Regions from separate parts of the Homo sapiens genome. Here all the other regions are reported to be linked to region 4. The links are microRNA targets in miRTarBase. Many come from high-throughput screens and were not tested one by one. Region 4 holds a microRNA gene; each other region holds the end of a gene's coding sequence.

Region 1 (3,188 bases), not on the chromosome of region 4:
CATTTATATATTATATTGCCCAGAGTGCTAATTTAATCGATGTGTTTTTTATAGAAGAGGAAGATGCTTAGTACCTTCAAAACATTATTGAATTATTACATATATAATTTGTTAACTACGTACAATTATCATAAAATTAATTTTTGCTTTTTGTTTTCTTGCCAATAATAGACGTCTTCCATGTATGCACCTTTTCCACCAAGTGTGTGTTGACCAATGGTTGATTACCAATAAGAAGTGCCCCATATGCAGAGTGGACATTGAGGCCCAGCTGCCAAGTGAAAGTTGACACCATGTTTCAGAACTCTTGCCCTCCCTCTCATTCCCATCCTTCCTGGTACTGCAGTCAACCAAAGATGGCATGACTTACCTGCGCAGATTTGGAAGCATTGAACTTAGAGTGCTGGCTCTGCTATATGGTACAACTAATGCTAGACCTACAGTTTATGTATACAGTTGATTTTGATGTATTTATAAAAGCTTTTTTTTCTAGATTTGACATTTTTCTGTATCATTTTACTGTATTTTTGCATGGTTCCTTGTATTGCATTTCTTTGCACATATTATGGGCTTGTGACCCTAAACTTGCAGGCAAGGTTAGCTGCTTTAGTAAGTAGAATTTTGTGGTCTTTTTGTTTTTTACATAGTACCAAGCCTTGATAATTATGAATTTTTTATCCATTACTAACCTTTAATTTAATCAATCATGTACTTTAGTTTAATGTATAAAGATCCTCTAGAAAATGATAATATTGTGTATTAAGACATTCCTTAATTAGGACAAAATGGCTGCTGTATATTTACTATATGGAGTTCTGAGTTAAATACCATCCTTAATACTGGGAACAGAATACAACCCATATAAATCAGATGCAGGTGGTAGTCACATCACCAGAGTGATCAGTATAAATTTTCTTGGTGTATCCTTTTCCTTTCAACACAGTGCAGATAAGAGTTGAATATTGATATCATACATTTAGACTGCTGTTCTGATTGCATTTATCTTTTTCCTACATCATTTAGAATTTTATTTCCCTGATTCAGTTTTTGCTGCTGTGAAACAGCTCTGATGAACACTAAATATTAATTTCAATTAGCTAGATTGTACATACTTGCAGATTTAACAAAATTTTAGGGAAATTGAAAAAGACATGTAGAATTTGTTGTCTTCTGCTAAGCACGAAAAGTTAAGATATCTGCTTACATTGATTTTGTAGACACATTAAGTCAAGATTTGGAATTTAAGTCACTGGCAGGTATCTGTGCATTCATAGAACTTATAAAGGTCCCAGGATCACTTTTAAGGGATTTTTATTAGTTTAAAGGTAAATAAAGTCAGCTGAATCTACATGTCTCTTGTTTTATTTCTCTCTAAACTTGAAAACAGTAAATCTGCAGATACTGTGAGGCACAAATTATACTGTCAACCTACTGTTGCTATGGTTATATACTCCCACTTCATACATTACCAAGAGTCGATCACTGATTTAAAATTTTTAATTTCTATAGTTAAGATTTACTGCATAATATAGAATATAAAGTTAAGTTAACATACTAACATTTCTCCTTTGGAGGAAGTTTTAATCTACTTCAGGATGCATATTATTATCAAGATACTTTCATATACAGGATAGCCTAATTTTATTTGTTTAAATATGCTTAATATGCCCCAGATTGCAAATGCATCCAGTCAGTAATATCACTGTCTGTATGTGGAGGACATGTTCCCATGGATCATATGTGAAGATGTCAATAAGCTTGCATTAAGCCACCTGCTTTGTAAGTGGATTGATTAATAAATAACTTATATTTCTATTGTCTTTGTGTTTCATAATTAGTTTTTATAAAAACAGTTTACATTAAACATCTTGGAATTCAACAATAGTGATCTCACTCAAATTGACATTTGCATAATTTGACATTTATATTCATTCAGTTATGACTACTTGCCCTTTTCTTCATATTAGTAAATGTTACACTGTAGTAGTTGTCAATGTTAACAGGCTTCAACATAGTATGTGTGCAGATGGACGATGGATTTAAAGAGCATACCTTATGATTAAACCGAGGTTATAGAAGGTCAGGGGAGAGTGAAGGAGTCAGTGACCTATGTCTGCCATCTTACTGGGGAAAAGAGCAAGTAGCCTGTCTTCCTTTAAGTAAGTAGCCTGTAATGGATGTACTACTTTGCCACTGGAATACCCCGGGTCTGTGCCAAGGGACTGAAGAAGTGTAAGATGGGGAGAACTGTATGTCATGGAGTCCTCTTGACGTTCCCCCAGATACAAGTAAAGCACAGGTGGATTTCTCTATTTTTGAATACTACATCAGATTTAGATGCACGACTACCTGTTGACTTGTTTTATAATTGCTACTGATTTTTTTAATGTAGGCAAAGCTTTGTTACTTTGAAATTTATTTAATAAAAGTATTTGTGACATAAACCTGAATTGTTAATATAGGAGCTTATTAAGCTACTGCCATTAGTTATCGAAAAATGTGATAAGTAATGAAGAAAGTAAGGAAGAAAATGACTTTGAACATTTTGACTTTTTGTGCTTTGTTTTGGTGTCTTCCATATCCTGCTGCATCTTATATGTCAAAATGAACATTTCAGTGGTAGCTGTCCAAATACATAAAAACTAAAATTCTTTTGTTAGCAAGTCCTTATTTTTATTGTTGTTAACATGCAAGTGATAAACTGATAATTTGAAACATTTTTCTTACTCTGGTGACTTTCTTTTAGCTGCTAGCACACTTCAGCATTTGAACCATAACAGTTGTGATAAACTGATCGTTTGAAACGTTTTTCTTACTCTGGTGACTTTCTTTTAGCTGCTAGCACACTTCAGCATTTGAACCATAACAGTTGTGATAAACTGATCATTTGAAACGTTTTTCTTACTCTGGTGACTTTATTTTAGCTGCTAGCACACTTCAGCATTTGAACCATAACAGTTGACTTAGAGAAAACTACTTTTGTTTTAAAAACTGTTACTTGTTCACGCCTGTAATCCCAGCACTTTGGGAGGCTGAGGTGGGCAGATCATGAGGTCAGGAGATCGAGACCATCCTCGTTAACATGGTGAAACCCCATCTCTACTAAAAATACAAAAAATTAGCTGGTCATGGGTAGCGGGTGCCTGTAGTCCCAGCTACTCAGGAGGCTGATGCAGGAGAATGGCGTG
Region 2 (3,188 bases), not on the chromosome of region 4:
TCCATTTCACACAGGCTCTTTAAGGCGGTGATAGTTTAATGGCAAAAACGTGATTTGAGAGTGAGTAGAAGATCTAGAACTGCCAGGTTTATTGTGGAAACCTGAGCACGTCTCTTAACCTCGTTGAACTTCAGTTTCTTTCCTCTATAAATAGGAAATTTATGTTAAATCACTTTATAACTTTATAAACTGAACCACATAAAAGTAATATTGTGGTATGGAACTTTTTAAAAGAAAAGTAAACATTTGGAAATTTCATGTCTGCCATGTAACTAATGTTGCTGCATTTCACATAGGTATTGGGAAATGAGAGAGCAGCGCACCCCCACTTTGAAAGGCAAGCTGGTTCAGAAGGCTGATCAGGAGCAGCAGGACCCTCTGGAATACCTTCAGTCTGATGAAGAGGACGACGAGAAGAGAGGGGCCCAGCGCCGGCTGCAGGAGCAGCGGGAGCGCCTGCATGGAGCCCTCGCGCTCATAGAGCTTGCCAACCTGACTGGGGCGCCACTCCGACAGTAGCTTGGACACTGACTCTTCCACTGTACAAAAGTACTGCCCAGCATACTTAAAAAGTAGATCCTTGGGCATAAGCTAAGCACCTTATTTGCTTATCATAGGCTGCTATTCTGTAGAAATTTATGAAGAATGTTATTGCCCCAGAATATGGGGTGAGAGAGAACTGCACTTTTTTAATATGGAAATGAATTCATCGTAAAGTTTAAAATATTTTGTAAATATGGACTGCACAGTACAGGGTAGAAAACTACATATTGTGGGAAGCTAGATTTTGCAAGTTTAATGCATTCATTGGAAGCAGTTCTCACAGGAAGCACTTTCTGAATAAGACACTTGTTTGAAAAACAGAATGGTACAAATAGCCAAAGAAGATTAAAACAGATTATTTATAAGATCATTTTTAACAATATATATTAGTATGTTTAACAATACTGTAAACACTGAAGCAAGCAAGAAAGTATAAAATATGTAAGATAGATAATTTTAATTGCAAAATACTGTGCCCACTAAGGCTAGAGAAATGGGAGGCTATTTTGGAAGATGTTCTAAGTAATGGACTTAGAAGAAAATAGATATTTGAGGCTCTTGGTAAGATGCACAATAGTTCAGAATTTTTGAAATTGGAGCAAAATCAGTCTTATTCTATCTGGGGCTTTACAACTCAGTATAATGTTTAAGTTTGAAAAGCACTTGTCATCCCTAGCATGTTAACTTGGGAACTTTTGCACATTTCATATTTCTCATTTGCTGAAATTGAGTGATTAATCTTGCAAAGTCTAGGTAACATAGTAATTGGTAATTTTAAAAATACATATTAAGGGCCCTGTAATGAGATTTGGCACTTGGATTTTTACTAAAGGGACACCTGCAGGGTTGTTTTGTAGTGAAATGTTTTAGATCTTTTGTTAGCAAACACTACATTTTAATTGTACTGCTTGTTTAGAATTATTAGCAAATGGAAGCCTCCATATTTATATTTTCAGTGCATAAAGCCACCTTCTTGCTTTACTTCAGAGTAACATGCCAAGCTATTTTGTGTTCACTAAATTTAGCTATCAGTTAAACACTGCAGAAAATATTAGCTACTCAAATAAGTAGGCTTCTGAAATAGTTTTAACTGCAAGTGTGTTAACTTGTGTGGTGGTTTGAAGCCATTTTTCCAAATAAAGTTATTAAACACCACTTTATGTACTGAAGCATGAACAGAAAAATCAAGAGCTGAGCAGACCACCTCCTTTATGTAGGCAAAACTTCCATCATTTTGGCTTTTGTTCTAAACAGAACTAAATGACATGCATAGCATGGTAACTTACAGATCGCTTAATTGGAGTAAAACTCAGAGTAATAGAGGGAAATATGGGCTCTTCAGTGCCTTTTTAGCTTTTTTGAGTTGAAGACGTTCCTACAGATGTAGTTTAAACATTACAAAGTAGGCTTCTTTATCCAAAAATCCCAATGTGTCATAGTACACAGATAGTTTAAAATATGTAGCCACGGGGAAGGGGAGGCATGTAAATGTCTTGAAGAGGAGAAAAAGTATGAAAGAAGATACGATAGTTACGAATAATGTGTATGATGAGGACATACTTTAAAAATGTAATTCCTCTGTACAGTAAATTACAAATCTTTAGGGATTTTTTTGTAATAAGAGAATTTATATTTGTAATGGTCTAAGAATTTTTTTGTAATGTGGTATATAGAATTTTAATTTGGAGCACTTATAAGCTGGTAAGAGAGACTATAGCATCTGAATTATCTTGGTTTATGTTTCAGCATTTCCTCTAGAATTTTTGCTCTCAAATATGTGATTTAATGAACTAAAAACAACACTCATCAGTCTTGGGAAATTTGAACTTTGATCAACTTAACTAAAGAAGGAAGGGTAGTAAGAATTTTTCAAATACAAATATTTGCCAATTCACAGATGATAACATTTAAGGCCTTCAAAAGTAAGGGTTTTTCCTTGTTTCTCCAGTCAGCTTTTGTCAACTCTAATAGTTTTTTCATAAACATTTTTTATTTGTATAATTGCAACAGTTTAAGAAATTATCACAACTATTTAGAAACATTTAAAATGTTCTTTTTGATATAAGCTATATACTTGGAAAAATACATTGGTATCTAAAATTTGAGGTGTGTTAAGACTGCTTTTTGTTTTAAAAAATGGTTTACATTCAAATTTTTGAAGTGTTTTATGCTTCATATGGCTAAGTTGTAGTTTGGCAGAGTTAACAGCATAAGAATAAACATGCTGTAATTTTAAAAGATGCTTTGAATAAAAATTTATTTTAATTTAAAATTTAAAGTACACGGTCATTCTTAAAGCCTTTATCATTTGTTTTCCTATCGAAAATATAATAACCATGATATAAAAAAATTTAAAAGATAGAAACATCACCTACAGCCTTATGTTCAGCCATCAGTATTATTTCAGTACATGTTTGCGTAGTTGTAAGTACAGTGTGGATTGCTTTTTCTTACTTTAATTATGGCTTTTAAGGTTATAGATATTTAACTTCCTCATCGGGTTCATTACTACAGTGTTAAAAATATACTGCTGTGGATAAGTATTGAACTATTGCCACCCCATTTCCAGGCCTTAAATTAGGGTAATAAGGAAAAGGGATTTCATTTCACTTACATTTAGGATGGGTTGTCTCTGGGGTCAGCTC
Region 3 (3,188 bases), not on the chromosome of region 4:
ATAAGGGAAATCTCCAGGCCTACACTCAAGACAGAAACCCCCTCTACACTATACACTCAAGAGAGAAACAGAAAAAATAAAAATAAAAATACCCTCTACATTCAAGACAGAAACAGGAAAAAAAAAAAACAACAACAAACTCGAGCTGAAACAAAAGCAAGAAAGCAGCAGAAAGCATCAAGCAAGAAGCAAGCTTGAAAGATGGGGTTTATCCCTGGAGGCAGATAGCTAACAGCATCTGCCTGTTAGTTTGGAATTGACCTGCAGAGACAAAACCTTCGGCTAGTAGTAAGGGTCAGGGAGCTTACACTTAAGACAAGGCATTCAATCAGGATCCACAAAGGTGAATAGAGTATGCCAAGGAGTTTGTACCACCTCACCCAGAGAAGCAACGAACTCAAATCATACTGAAGGAAAACATACACAATTTAGGCCCTCTGTCTTCTCGCAGATTAACACATACTCAAGGAAATAAGTCACAATGATATGCAATAATAACCTTAAATGTAGACTTATAAAGACTTAAAATATTGAAATTATCAAAAATATCATATATTTGACTTTTAAAAATTAGAAACAGACTTACAAGGGACTGTAATGAGTAAACGGGAAGTTAAAAAGAATCAAATGAAAAATATATTTATTGAAATTAAAACCATCATTGTTTTAAATAGCAGGTGAGATGCTACTGAAAAATGAACTAGTAAACAGAAAGATAGAGCTGATGAAATTACCCAAAATGCAGTAAAGAGAAACAAGAGGATGAAAAATATGAGAAATTAAGAGACATGAAGGATACAGTAAGAAAGTCTATCATTTGTATACAGTCCTAGAATAGAGAAGAAATATTTGAAGAGCTAGTGGTTGAGAATTTTACAGAACATGAATTAAAAGATACAGGAAGAAGCCAGTATATACTAAGAATAAAAATAAATTCGCACTTCCAAATAATACAGTAAACCTGCAAAGCACCAAAGAAAAAAGAGATAATCTTAAAAACAGAGAAAAAAGATCCCATAAAAAAGTTGATTCTGAGGCCCAAAGATGTTGAGACTAACTTAAAACCACAAAATAAGTAGCGTAACTGTGACATAGCCCGTACATTCTCAATCTATGAAATGTATTTTTAACTATTTTGCTTTCTCTTTTTAAGCTGGCCAAAACCATTTACTTTGTTTTCTTAGCCATTTTTTCTTAAGCCCCTTCTAGCTGTCCAAGGTCCTGAAATCATTACAAGGACTATAAAATGTTTTAATGATTTACAAAAAGTTATATACCCTTTTCATAAGTTTAATTACCTTACTGGAATACTCATGTAAAAAATACTATGTTCCTTGATTCAGAGTACTAAATATTTGCATGGTGAACAATTTCTGATGTTCTTGCTTCAAGTTACTGTTCCTGATAACCTCAAACTACCTATTTACAATCCTTCGTGTTAGCATATTTTCAAATTCCAAGGAATCCAAAACTAAGTTAAAATTTCAGAGCTGGGGCCAGGAGCAATGGCTCACACCTGTAATCCCAGCACTTTGGGAGGCCAAGGTGGAGGATCACCTGAGACCAGGAGTTCGAGACCAGCCTGGCCAATATGGTGAAATGTCATCTCTACTAAAAATACAAAAATTTGCTGGGTGTGGTAGGGCATGCGTGTAATCCCAGCTACTCAGGAGGCTGAGGCAGGAGAATTGCTTGAACCTGGGAGGCGGAGGTTGTAGTGAGCTGGGATTGCGCCACTGTACTCCACCCTGGGCGACAGAGTGAGACTCTGTCTCCAAAACAAAAAAAGAAAGAAAAGAAAATTTCAGACCTAGAAGAAAGTATTTTTAAGCTACTCTTTGGTTCATATTTGTGTACTTTATTTTTAAAGTCTCTTCTTTAGATTATATGTGCAAAAATTATAAACTTGAGACCAGGATACTCCCATATTGGTGCTGAGGGATACTTTAGTATATTCTATAAACATCCTCTATGTCTTGCAAATTATATAATACATTCTCAATCTTATATCCAATTTTTAGTTTAGCAGGCAAAAGAGGAAGGCAATAACAATGGGAGAAAGAGGACATCCACCAATTTAGTAATGGTCTATATTTGTGGTTGTTATGACAACCTAATATCATCTCCAAATGTAGGGAAGATACAAAAACATCTCAGTGCTTTTAGGCCCTTCAAACTAGCTAGAAAGAAATGGACTTCTTCCATTATCCAGTATGCTTATAGGCCCATCACCTTGCCTTTCTGGTGTCCATCTTTCCCTTAATTTACTTGCACGGAGAGTTCCTTCTACCACTGTTCTCTATAACATATACCCTCCTCTCACTTTAACTCCCCACCCTGGCCCTAGCCAAACCATTCATTCATTCAATGTTTATTGAACGGCCTTTGTGTGCTGTGTATTGTGGTAGATTCTTGGTGTATGAAGAAGCATTAATTGAATATAAATTGCTTTGGTATTTTAAAAGTCAACATACTAAATGTAATGTAGTACTTTAGTCAAAACTATCTATATTTTTAATAGGTTAGTTGGCAGTAGGATTTGCTATTCAGCCTAAGAGGCTGAATTTGAGATATTCCACATTTCACAGGAAAAAAAAAAAAAAAATGTGTCCTTTACCATATCATTGCAACGATTTGGCTATTTTTTATATATAAACATATACATCTCCCCACCAATTCATGAAAAATATTCTATGTTGACCATGATATTCTTTTTATTGAAAAGTAATATAAAATGGCTTTAGACATAAAAGATAGTATTTTACATTATTTCTTCTGTTATATTTTTACGCTTTGTGCCAGAATTTACTTCTTGCAACTATTCTTGCTTTATCTGGAACAGTTTACTCCGTTATTGAATATCTATTAGTGTTTAATATAGAAGAGCTTAATAAACCGCTAATCCGAAAATAATGGTATTCCCTTGCTTTTCAGACCTTTTTGCTGAATATGCTTATTTATGTCCAATGTGGAAATCTGATCCTGCTCTCTTCCACTCTGCCAGCAGTTCCTTTTGTACTGCTTCTGGTAGTTCATAGAAAACTTGAGGATCAATGTCAGAAGGGAAAGTAATTTTCTCATCAACAGAATCTGGCTCTCTATTTTCTGTAAGTCCTTCATGAGAGTCTGTTGCTACTGTTTGCTTATGGCTATCTGTAGTGTGGTTTCTGGAGAAAAGTTGCTCACTC
Region 4 (3,188 bases):
AGTTTCCAAAGCCACTGGAATTAATCCAAAGCTCTTACTATGGATCCTATAAAGCTCTAACTGATTTGACACTTGATTTCTTTAACTTCACTATCCTCTGCTAGCCCCTTTGCCCACTACACTTAATATTCCCATTTTAATTTTTCATCTGCATTCCAGGCCCATCTATCTAACTATATACTTGACATGTATACTTGGATGTCTCACAAGCATCTCAAACTTAACCTGCCTACACACACACACACACACACACACACACACACACACACACACACACACCTTGTGCCTTTACCACCCACTTAATTGTTCAGAGCAGAATTAGTGGTTACTCGTTTCTTTTCTCTGTGAGGCCTGTCATTTTTATTTCAAAGAAAACCTTGAAGTCATCCCTTCTCCCCAGTTCCATTGCCAACACTCTAGTTCAAGTCACCATCATCACTAGGTTGGACTAATAGATTAGACATATTTTTTGGTCTCCCATTTCTATTTTTGCCACAGTCCACGTGAGTCTTATCTTCAATACCAGTGACAGCACGTCCTTCAATGTGCATGCTTTGTTGATCTGCATGCATTAAAAGAATAACATGCTTTTGTGAAAAGTTGGGGGGTGTTGTCCATCTGGCGAGAATACAGATCAGGCTTTGAAAATGCCTTAAGAAAATGCCTAACTTGCCAATTATACTTTTGGTATTCAAAATATATAGATATAGCATCTGTATTAGTTAGTTTTTATGCTGCTGATACATACCAGAGACTGGGTAATTTATATAGGAGAAAGGGTTTAATGGACTTACAGTTCCACATGGCTGGGGATGCCTCACAGTCATGGTGGAAGGCAAGGAGGAACAAGTCACATCATGCATGAATGGCAGCAGGCAAAGACAGAGAACTTGTGCAGAGAAAATCCCCCTTATAAAACCATCAGATCTGTGAGACTTATTCACTGTCTTGAGAACAGCACAGGAAAGACCTGCCCCCATGATTCAATGACCTCCTACTGGGTCCCTTCCACAACACGTGGGAATTCAAGATGAGATTTGAGTGGGGACACAGCCAAACCATAGCTTCTATATTGTTCCAACTCCAAATCAGAAGATTAGGCCTAATAATGCATAGATTGATGATGACAACTCAGGACTATCCTGGAAAATTCAGGCCAAAAAGTTAGGAACATATTGACTGCAATAGGAAATAGAAAATATGTGGGCTGTTGCTAGGAATTCTTTCCTTTAACTAAAATCTATCTTTTTAAAAGTCAGAAGAGCAAGTATTGTAAAAAAAAGTAAGTTTACACTTATTCTACCCAAGGGGTAAAAACATGTAGCTAAGTAAATTCTTCATCTCCCTTTTCTCAGAACTCCTTAAAGAACTTAGGGAAATGTGATGTGAGCAACCATAGTTCCCTAGATTACTCCACTTTTTTTCTGTTATTAAATAAGGAAATTTTATACCTTGAATCTTATATCAACAGTTGCTATATAAAAACCACCCTAAAGCTCAATGGCTTAAAACAATAATTTATTTAGCTTATGATTCTGGTGGTTACCAGTTTGAGTTGTTTGCAGCTGGGCAGTTCTTCTGCTGGCTTCTCCTGGGATCACTCATGCAGCTGTAGTTATCTGGTATCTCGACTGGAGTGAGATGGCCTAAAGAAGCTTTCTTCAACTGTCTGGCAGGTGGTGCTGACCATCAGCTGGGCTTCTCTCTGAGGGTGGTTGTTATCCTCAAGAGGGCTAGCATGTGCTTTTATCCATAAGAGGGCTAGCCTGGACTAGAGTGTGAGAGCAGAAGCTGCAAGGCCTCTTGAAGCCCAGGCTAGGAAGCCATACAAAGTCATTTCTATTGGCCAAAGCTGGCCACAGAGACAGCTCAGATGCAAGGGGAAGAGAACTATACTCTACCACTTGACAAGGGAGTGACAAAATCACATTACCAAGTGTTAGCACGCAGGGATGAAAAGAATTGGGGCCATCATTGCCAGCAATCTACACAACTTCATTACCCCTTTAGAGAAACACTTTCTCTGAGTTATTAGATTAGTGCAAAAGTAATTGCAGTTTTTGCATTACGTTCTATGGCAAAACTGTAATTACTTTTGTACCAACATAATACTTCATATATGTATATCTGTATGTATGGTTATGTACATGTGTGTATATAGATTACATGCTGTAACTCAGAAATATACATGTATGCACACATAGCATACTTGTGCATAAATAAATTATTTACTAATATGTAGGTATGCATTAGTGAACCTATAAACATTTGGACAGGAGTTGTTTGTGGTTGTCTATTATGTTGTCTAAATGCATTTGTAAAAGGATCCATGCAATAAATGCATAAATATGTCTTAGAAGATGTGTAACTCTTAAATAAATAATTCTTTTGTTCAGATAAACAATGCATAATTCATCACTGGCCCTTATTTTGGCATCTAGAAAGCTCAGAGTTAAATGTAATGTCATTGTCCATTCTTGATATTAGCTTAGATATAATTGTCTTTCACTTAGAATTAGTTTCCAATTGCAATTATTTACTTGCTTATTGTTTATGTGTATTTATTATAAGCTACTTCAATCATTTTCAAAATGAGATGAAATATAAGCAAAACATTAAAAAACATAACAATGTGTCTTTTGAAGTATCAGATGTATTTTCATTTTAGAGAATGATAATAATGCACTCTAGAAACTCTGGAGAACCAGTTCACTTTGGCAATGTTTTTAGTCTTAGCTTATGAAATAAAGATAGTTCAAATAGTGGAGAAGAGTGCCCCAGAGAACTACTGGGCTCAAATGCTTATAGTTTAATTCGTTCTATTTCTTCCACTTCACAATCAATCATCTAGAAAAGCCATGATGACTCATCCTTAAAAAAGAGTCATTGATTTTATATCTCCATTTTCAATCTGCTCTTCAATTCACCTCTTTCTCCTTCTAATTCAGAAAGGAGTCTTCATGGAGAAACAAATAATTAATTTGGTTATTGGCCAATATCAGGTTATTCTCTCACATGTGAGAGATATCTAAAAATAAAGCTACTTTTTTCACTTTCGGTTCTTGTCATTATTTTTAGTAAATTTCTGAATTATAAACTCCCAATTCATACCATGCATAATATTTTTCTTTGATTTTCCTTTTCTCTCCAAAAGAATCCAAATATTTCTCCACAACACAATTGCATTT

The links. Region 4 holds the annotated microRNA hsa-miR-548g-5p (UGCAAAAGUAAUUGCAGUUUUUG, at 2,041-2,063, shown strand). A microRNA usually pairs through its seed, bases 2 to 8, with sites in the 3' UTR of a target mRNA and lowers its output. Matches are read on the target gene's strand: a 7mer-m8 pairs with bases 2 to 8, a 7mer-A1 pairs with bases 2 to 7 and ends in A, and an 8mer does both.
Region 1: the mRNA of RNF111 is a reported target of hsa-miR-548g-5p. Seed matches in the 3' UTR shown: 7mer-A1 at 526-532.
Region 2: the mRNA of ZNF367 is a reported target of hsa-miR-548g-5p. Seed matches in the 3' UTR shown: 7mer-A1 at 786-792 and 8mer at 1,236-1,243.
Region 3: miRTarBase lists POLI as a target of hsa-miR-548g-5p. Seed matches in the 3' UTR shown: 7mer-m8 at 2,030-2,036 and 7mer-A1 at 1,891-1,897.

Annotation. Positions count from the first base shown.
Region 1 is chr15:59,094,612-59,097,799 of GRCh38, forward strand. RNF111 (ring finger protein 111) reads left to right here. Exons shown (of 14, transcript NM_017610.8): 14 at 172-2,808. The coding sequence ends at 289. Among named protein-coding and RNA genes, the nearest start is that of CCNB2, 8.9 kb to the right of the region's middle.
Region 2 is chr9:96,385,568-96,388,755 of GRCh38, reverse strand. ZNF367 (zinc finger protein 367) reads left to right here. Exons shown (of 5, transcript NM_153695.4): 5 at 297-2,815. The coding sequence ends at 519. Among named protein-coding and RNA genes, the nearest start is that of SLC35D2-HSD17B3, 3.5 kb to the right of the region's middle. RefSeq lists an enhancer at 1-93.
Region 3 is chr18:54,294,233-54,297,420 of GRCh38, reverse strand. It overlaps POLI (DNA polymerase iota), which reads right to left. Exons shown (of 10, transcript NM_007195.3): 10 at 1-3,188. The coding sequence ends at 2,954. Among named protein-coding and RNA genes, the nearest start is that of POLI, 26 kb to the right of the region's middle.
Region 4 is chr4:147,343,556-147,346,743 of GRCh38, reverse strand. It overlaps MIR548G (microRNA 548g), which reads left to right and starts at 2,027; the gene lies at 2,027-2,115.